Regions from separate parts of the Homo sapiens genome. Here region 1 is linked to region 2. Evidence: fine-mapped expression QTL. A gene starts in region 2. The other region holds a variant in brackets. All regions are shown on one strand. Distances are between the middles of the regions. Region 1 has its middle 24 kb from the start of SNX11. Region 2 holds the start of NFE2L1 (NFE2 like bZIP transcription factor 1).

What was found. PIP is the estimated chance that this variant, and not a neighbour inherited with it, causes the effect. A credible set is the group of variants that fine-mapping cannot tell apart.
Region 1: its variant is the best candidate, but not a certain one, in a credible set for the expression of NFE2L1 in blood mononuclear cells (TOPMed, PIP 0.63).

The regions. Positions count from the first base shown.
Region 1 is chr17:48,129,326-48,133,325 of GRCh38, forward strand. No RefSeq gene overlaps it. Among named protein-coding and RNA genes, the nearest start is that of SNX11, 24 kb to the left of the region's middle. The variant A/T (reference allele first, on the strand shown) is at 2,106.
Region 2 is chr17:48,046,026-48,050,025 of GRCh38, forward strand. It overlaps NFE2L1 (NFE2 like bZIP transcription factor 1), which reads left to right and starts at 2,334. Exons shown (of 6, transcript NM_003204.3): 1 at 2,334-2,437. NFE2L1-DT (NFE2L1 divergent transcript) reads right to left here and starts at 2,028. Exons shown (of 2, transcript NR_170231.1): 1 at 1,600-2,028; 2 at 856-945. It also overlaps a transcript of COPZ2 not described here. RefSeq lists enhancers at 1,106-1,709, 1,554-1,743, 1,710-2,311, 1,814-2,053, 2,312-2,913 and a silencer at 2,464-2,743.

The DNA.
Region 1 (4,000 bases), 83 kb after region 2:
TGTAATCCCAGCACTTTGGGAGGCTGAGGCAGGTGGATCACGAGGTTAGGAGTTCAAGACCAGCCTGGCCAAGATGGTGAAACGCTGTCTCTGCTAAAAATACAAAAATTAGCCGGGCATGGTGGTGGGCACCTGTAATCCCAGCTACTCAGGAGGCTGAGGCAGAGATCGCATCACTGCACTCCAGCCTGGGTGACAGAGGGGAGAGTAGGTCTCAAAAAAAAAAAAAATCAAACAGGAGGGAGGGCACCTTGTCAACCCCACCTTTGACACTACTCTAGTTGAAAACAAAATCAACCCGGGTTTAGGGAATGAGACTTAATAGGAATTCTCACCTCTTTCCCATTTTTTATTCACCATCAAGAAAGATATAGTTGGCTTTGAATTAAATACAGATTTCTAAGAGATATACCAGGCCATCATATGGAAAAATTTAATATTGAGGTAATTGCAAAACAATATCTATGCTATTTTGCTATGTGGATGACAGGGAAAACACACTAGAAAAACGTATTTTTAATGAAATGTAGCTGAAATGTTGCTTTCGGAGCATTTAGTATTCTTGGATACCAGCTTGGACAATTCAGGCCAAACTGTACCAGCCCCAGGTTAGATTATCGACTGGGAGTCAGTACTTTCTGTGTCAATGATTATACATTTACTTCTTAAATTTAGGATTTTAGCTTTTAAATTTTCTTTTTACATAAAATCAAGGAAAAAAGCCTTTCATCTCCACTGCTCTCCTATTTCACTTGCCAGAACAATTGGTAGTGATTAAGAAGCCGTCCTACATATAATGTGGTTAGTTAAGCGGTCTAATGCCCCAGTTATCCAGTTAGTGGCAGGCAGTGAGGTGGGGATTTGGTTAGTAGAGCCAAACAGAGGAGCGGTAATCTAATTAGCCTGTTGCCATCTGAGGCCGTTGGCTAAGATGGGGGCTAACTGGGTGTGGAGCAGTTTTGCTGGGTGAGGTTTAGTTTCCAACGCTGTAGGAATCTGCTGCTTCCAAAAAGTCTCCTTTAGAACTATCCCCTAGCAGAGAATGTCCATCAGCCTGTAGATTGTCTCATCAACACATCAAACATGCTCTACCCAACCCCTGCCGCGCTTTTTTTTTTTTTTTTTTGCATATAACAATGTCAGAGACAGCCAGAACTACAGACCAGATTTCCAATGAGGTAATTTGTTTATATACTTTAGGACCAACCTAATTTCTTTTTCTGCTGAGTTTCACAGCTAGAAGGGCCAGAGATCTGAGTGTGGTCCCTACGGTGGGGTGTGTGGCGGTACCCAAAGACCTTTGCAGTTTGGCAAGTGGTTGTTTCCTCTTGGAAAACAGGTATAGAAGGGACATTTTATTTTAAATGCTGGAAGCCAATGGCCATATGATTTAGAGAGCATTGAACTCTGTAGGGAGTGAAGAAGTTACCTTTTTCTTTTCTTTTTTTTCTTTTTTTCCTGCTCTGTCGCCAGGCTGGTGTGCAGTGGTGTGATCTTGGCTCACTGCAACCTCCGCCTCCCAGGTTCAAGCGATTCTCGTGCCTCAGCCTCCTTAGTAGCTGGAATTACAAGCATGCGCCACCACACCTGGCCAATTTTTGTATTTTTAGTAGAGACAGGGTTTCATCATGTTGGCCAGGATGGTCTTGATTTCTTGACCTCGTGATCCACCCACCTTGGCCTCCCAAAGTGCTGGGATTACAGGCGTGAGCCACCACACCCAGCTGACCTTTTCCTTTTTCAGCCTCATCCTGTCCCAGATCCCGGCCCTTTCTCTTCTGGTATCCCCTTTTCTGATGTCTTTCAGCCACAGAGTGGTGGCACGATGATATTCTGGCCTCTTAGCCACCCAGCTTTTCAGATTTGGGTCCCTGGGTCTCCAGGGAAGGATGGGCGGGGGATGGAGGAGTGGGGGAGAGGTGGGTGGCAGAGGAGGAGTATAGAAGGGTTTGTGTTTGCTCCCTCTGTTAAACACTTTAGAATATTGCCCATTGTCCTTTCCTGTGGGATGGGATTGGTGCAAAGGCTCCTAAAACTGGAGGCAGTTGGTTCTCTTTGGTTCACCTGCTCATATGCTGCCACCTAGTGGTTCCTTCTCCTTTAGC[A/T]CTCTGTGTGAAGGGTAGGGGGACGTTAAGGACACTACTATATTGCCTTTATCTCACTTGGGTTTTTTTTTCCTCCTAAACCTAAAATTTCCCCTTTTCATTCCATGCAGTTATCCATCATACACAAAACTGTTTTCTTCTTTTTACTCTTGGATCAGATAATCTGGAAATGAATAGTTGGTATAAGATCTATGTTTTTTTGAGTAAGTTAGAGCCCACTAACATCCCTGTTTGCCCCCTGGTTTCTCTTTTGTGATGTGAGATGGGCGTCTTACTCCAGTGCTGCAACATGTTCATTACAGAGGAGAGGCAGGCTACCACCAAGCCAGGGCTTCTCTGAACAGGGATTTCTTTTTTCTTTCTTTTTTTTTTTTTTTGAGACGGAGTCTCACTCTGTCGCCCAGACTGGAATGCAGTGGCGCGAACTCGGCTCACCGCAACCTCCGCCTCCCGGGTTCAAGCGATTCTCCTGTCTCAGCCTCCCGAGTAGCTGGGATTACAGGTGCATGCCACCATGCCCGGCTAATTTTTGTATTTTTAGTAGAGATGAGGTTTCACCATGTTGGCCAGGCTGGTCTCAAACTCCTGACCTCGTGATCTGCCCGTCTCGGCCTCCCAAAGTGCTGGGATTACAGGCGTGAGTCACTGCACCCGGCCAGTTGCCTGTCTTTCAAAATTTCTCCTGTAGAGAAATCAGGCAATAATAGCAGCTACCCTTATTGAACAGTTATTATGTGCCAGGCATTGTTCCAAGTACCATTACACATGTTAAATCATTTAATCTTCCTAATCACCTAATGATACAGTGAATAGAGTATATCCCTTCTAAGGTGAGGAAACTGAGGCATAAATGGTCAAATAACTTGCTCCAGAGAGCACAGTAGACAGGGAACTGAGATTTATTCCCAGGCTGTCTGGTTGCAGATGTTATGCTGTTAATCACTATGTTTTGCTGCCTCTTAATATGCAGGTAACCTGAGTGCTAGGTACAGACAACAGGAAAGGGAAACAGGGAGCCCTGTATCCATACTTGAGCCCTCCTCAGAGCATTTCCTCAGCCCCTACCTGGGAGGTGTTGTAGTGGAGGACACATGGGTTGTTAACTAACCCGAGGCCTGAAGAGGAACTCTTCAATGTGCTGACTCCAAGGCCTTGCTTCTGGTTCTGTCTCATTTTGGAGATTCAGCACATAGGAAAAAAACCAAGTAGCTGGGTGGGAGTGGTGGCTCATGTCTGTAATCCCAGCACTTTCGGAGGCTGAGGCGGGTGGATCACTTGAGCTAAGGAGTTTGAGAGTAGCCGGGCCAACATGGTGAAACCCCGTCTCTATAAAAATACAAAAATTGGCTGGGTGCAGTGGCTCAGCCACCCTGTAATCCCAGCACTTTGGGAGGCCGTGGTGGGTGGATCACTTGAGGTCAGGAGTTCAAGACCAGCCTGACCAACATGGTGAAACCCCGTCTCTACTAAAAATACAAAAATTAGCTGGGTGTGGTGATGCACGCCTGTAATCCCAGCTACTCGGGCGGCTGAGGCAGGAGAATAACTTGAACCGGGGACGGGGAGGTTGCAGTGAGCCAAGATTGCGCCACTGCACTCCAGCCTGGGAAACAGAGTCGAGACTCCATCTCAAAAACAAACAAACAAACAAAAAACCAAAAATCAGCCAGGTGTAGTGGTGGGCGCCTGTAATCCCAGTTACTCGGGAGTCTTAAGCAGAATTGTTTGAACTCAGGAGGTGGAGGTTGCAGTGAGCCAAGATTATGCCACTGCACTCCAGCCTGGGCAACAGAGCAAGACTCTGTCTCAGAAAAAAAAAAAAAGACAAAAAATAAACAATAGACGTGGATTCCAGAGAAGATTCTGCTCTGAAAGACAATTCCAAGTCTCCTTTT
Region 2 (4,000 bases):
CCCACACCCTGCCAGGCCTAGGCCTGCTGTTGCGACTGAGTTTGTCTCTACACCTTTACTCTCTTCGGCCCTTGCAACTCTTTCCCTTTTTCTGCCCACCTTTGTGAAATGGCTAAGCAGGAAACTCCACAGATAAACGATTGTCCAGTTTTAGTTTGAACTGTTAGGACTGAAAATTGTTCTGTATTTTTCTGTCAAAAAAAGACCAACTTTAGTATGCTCTTTTCACCTTCTCAAAATTGTCTTGTAGTTAAACACTGTAGTTGAGCCTTTATATCTCTCAATTTTATGTTTTGTTTTGTTGAGGAAGCATCTCACTGTTGCCCAGACTGGCACCATCATAGCTCACTGCAGCCTCAATCTCCCAGCTCAAGAAATCCTCCCACCTCAGCCTCCTGAGTAGTTGGGACTATAGATGTGTGGCACCAAGCCCAGCTTGTTTTTTTGTAGCGACGGGGGTCTCACTATGCTGCCCAGGCTGGTCAAGCAATCCTCCCGCCTCGGCCTCCCAAGGTGCTACTGTGAGCCACTGCGCCGGGCCCAGTTCTATGTTTAAAATACTTCCTTCTCAACCTTATTTATTTTTAGAGTTGATGGCCACACCTAAATATTCCTCCTTTCTTATACAATACCAGTCTTTATCTTCATTGTCTCACTACTTCGGGGACTGAATGGTCTCCTATTTTATTGTTAACATGCCATATCCTTCAAAACTGTACATCCTCCAAGGTGTGGTTAATTTCTGCTTTTAACAGGAAAATCAGAGGCCTGCCTGCTTGAGTCCCCCTTCAAGTACTCAGTATTTGAGTGTCTACTAAGTTATAACAGTTAACGCACAAAATTCTAGTCCTCATGTTGTTTATACTCAGGTATTTATTGGGAGACACGCGTCAGTAGTCCCTGATAAATGGAAAGATCGCTTGAGTCCAGGAGTTCCAGTCCAGCCTAGAATAGGTAAAACATGCTCTCTGAATTAGTCTTTGAAACTGGTAAACTAGCTCAGAAGTTTTTTTAAGAATTCCATGAGTGGTTTGCTGGTGTACGTTTATTATATGCAGTGAAAGTACTTAATCTGCAAACCACCCCAAATTAAGCCCCTAACTCGCAAGCACAAAATGGACTCGATTATTTACTGAGTTATCAGTTGGCCTTGTCCTTAGTTGTACAGGGACTAATGACTCACCTATAAATAATGGGCTCTTCTAAGAAGACACAGTTGAGTTGACACCTCTTTGTCCTATAGCTGGGAGGAACGCATTGCAAACGCCAACCCAATGATTCCCTAAATGGGGTCTTCGCATCAGCTGCGTTAAAATCACCCCAGCAGGCAGGTTATCCGGCCGCCACTCCAGGGTCATTAAATCAGACTCTCCAGTGGGACCTCGGAATTCGTAGCTTAGCAAGCTCCCCAAGTGATGCTGGGAGTAAACTAACGTTTGAGAGTCACAAACATGTTTTGGCAATATAACCAGATGGGACTGGAGAAATTAAAAAATGAGAAACATCCCTAAAAAAGCAAGACTAAGCTGCGTGGGAGGCCAAACGAGGGGGGTCCTTTGGGCTGTTTCTACCATGACAAAAATCGCCATTACCCCACACCTCTCACACCGCCAACGTTCCGCCAACGTTCCGCCAACGTCCCACCACCCTCATGATATCCGTCCGCGGTACTGCTCCAGCGAAGGTACCCTTGCCTGGGCCATGAGGCGCAACCGTCCCTCACAGCTGGGGTGGCTTCTCCAGGTTCGCACCGAGGGGAAGTTGGGGTACCGGTTTCCGCCGCCAGCACCCAAGATGGCGGCACGAGCGTCGCAACCACAAGAACCACATGCTTCGTGTCCCGCCTCAGCATTCTCGGGTCTCACTAGACTTTTGCAAGTCACTGTGGGAACCCTCAAGGCGAGGGTGTTCCGCACTCTGGCGGCGATACACCTTCCTATTCCCTGACCTAGGCCTTCATTCCCCCGCCACAGAAAGCGCTGGAAGCGCCCAACCTGGATACTTCACCCAACGCCCAAGCCCACTAACATCGCCCGCCGCGAAGGCGCGGCCGAGGGGCCCAGAATGCCAGACACTAGGGCCTTCGCCCTCCTCATTGGTGGGTCCATACCGCGGGGCGGGCCTAGGTACTCATTGGGCCGGGAATTATGTCAGTCTTGGGAAATCAGGTCCGGGGATGAGGAGGTACACTCAGCCATTGGGCCCTCTCTGCTGCCAATCAGAGGGACATCCGTCGACGGCCCCGGCCTCGGCTCGTTGATTGGAGAAACTGTTCCTAGGGTGTTTGCGGCGGGCGGGTTTCCGAGTGCGGTAGCAGGAGGGGGCGGGGAGGTAAGCGGAGGCTCCGAGCTCTAGGCCGGCCGGCGGTGGCGGCGGCGAGGCCGGGACTCGGGCTTAGGGCCTGCTGTGGAGGCAGCGGCGGACGCCGAGCTAAGCAGTGGGTATCGGGCACATTCCTTTCCCAGAAGGGAGGGTTGCAGCGCCGCGGGGCCGAGGCTTATGGGGCGACGGGATGGTGCTGAGGTGCAGGAGGCGGGGGCCGAGCGGGGTTCCCGCCAGAGCCCGGCCCTGGGCCTGACAGGGAGGGGCCCCGCGCGGGGCCGAGAGGAAAGCTGGCTCCGGGGTGGGATGGACTGGGCAGGGTTGAGGGCACGAGAAGGCGTGGTGTGAGGCCTGGACTTGGGAGTGGGGTGGGGCCATCGGGACGGAGGGCGGGGTGGGGTTTGCTGTAAGGGTGGGTCAAGGCCAGGGAAGTAGCACTTGTTCGCTGGCCGCCCCTGGAGGCTAGAAGCTCCGGCGCCGAGAGTGGGCATGGCGACTTGGTCTCAGCCGGACTCGGGTATCCGGGCAGGGTGGGACCAGCCTCAGGCTATGGGCCCTGCACCTACTTGATTTTTAAGGGACTTTGTCCGGTTCCTCGAACTTAATTGGCTCCTGGGAGGTTTTAGTAATAAATTGCGTGAGAACGGGAGGGTAGCGTAAGCAGGAATTCTGGGTCGCAATTGTGTTTACTCTGACCAGAGAGAGGGAGTGTGAGTGTGTGTGTGTGCGCACGTTCGTGTGTGTACGTATAGCTCGCTCTCCCCCTGTAGAATGAAGTTGGTAGATGGGTCACAACGCAGGAGAGGAGAGGCGGTATGTCTTGGTTTGTGACATTAATGGAAGCTCAAAAGTGGAGACCAGAAACAGATTTACTTCCTCTGCACTGGGCAGTCTGGCTAGAGAACGTGGCCATATCCTTCTGCTTTGGCTCAGAAGGTCATATGAATGAAAATAAAACCTGCCTATGCAAATTCTGGACGGAATAGTCCTGCGTAGTAGGGCCCCCACCATCCCTCTCCTTTTTTTCTTTCCTTTTCTTTTCTTTCTTTTTTTTCTTTTTTTGAGACGGAGTTTTGCTCTTGTTGCCCAGGCTGGAGTGCAGTGGCGCGATATCGGCCCACCACAACCTCCGTTTCCTGGGTTCAAGCGATTCTCCTGTCTCAGCCTCCCGAGTAGCTGGGATTACAGGCATGCGCCACCACGCCCGGCTAATTTTTGTATTTTTAGTTGAGATGGGGTTTCTCCATGTTGTTCAGGCTGGTCTCAAACTCCCGACCTCGGGTGATCCGCCCTCCTCGGCCTCCCGAAGTGCTGGGATTACAGGCGTCGGCCCTTTTCCTTTTTTTTCTTTTGTAAGTTGTGAGGATAGGAAAGGGAAATCAGATTTCAAAGTTCAGAAAACAAAAGGCATTCTTCTTCTGGGTGAAGTGGTGGCCTGAACATTGTCCTTTTGTCCTTCCACACTCTCACTGTTTAATAATCTTGCCTTTTTGAACTGAGAAAAGACAACTGTTATGGGTGGTTTTCTCCCGAGGGGTGAAAATCCAGCTTTACTTTTAAGACAGGAAATGGGCTTCTCATGTGAAAATAGAAGCTGGGTAATGCGCCTGTAGTGGGGGAGGAGGGCTGGTAAATAAAACAAAGGTGTAAGATATTTTGGATGACCTGGTTATTGTCT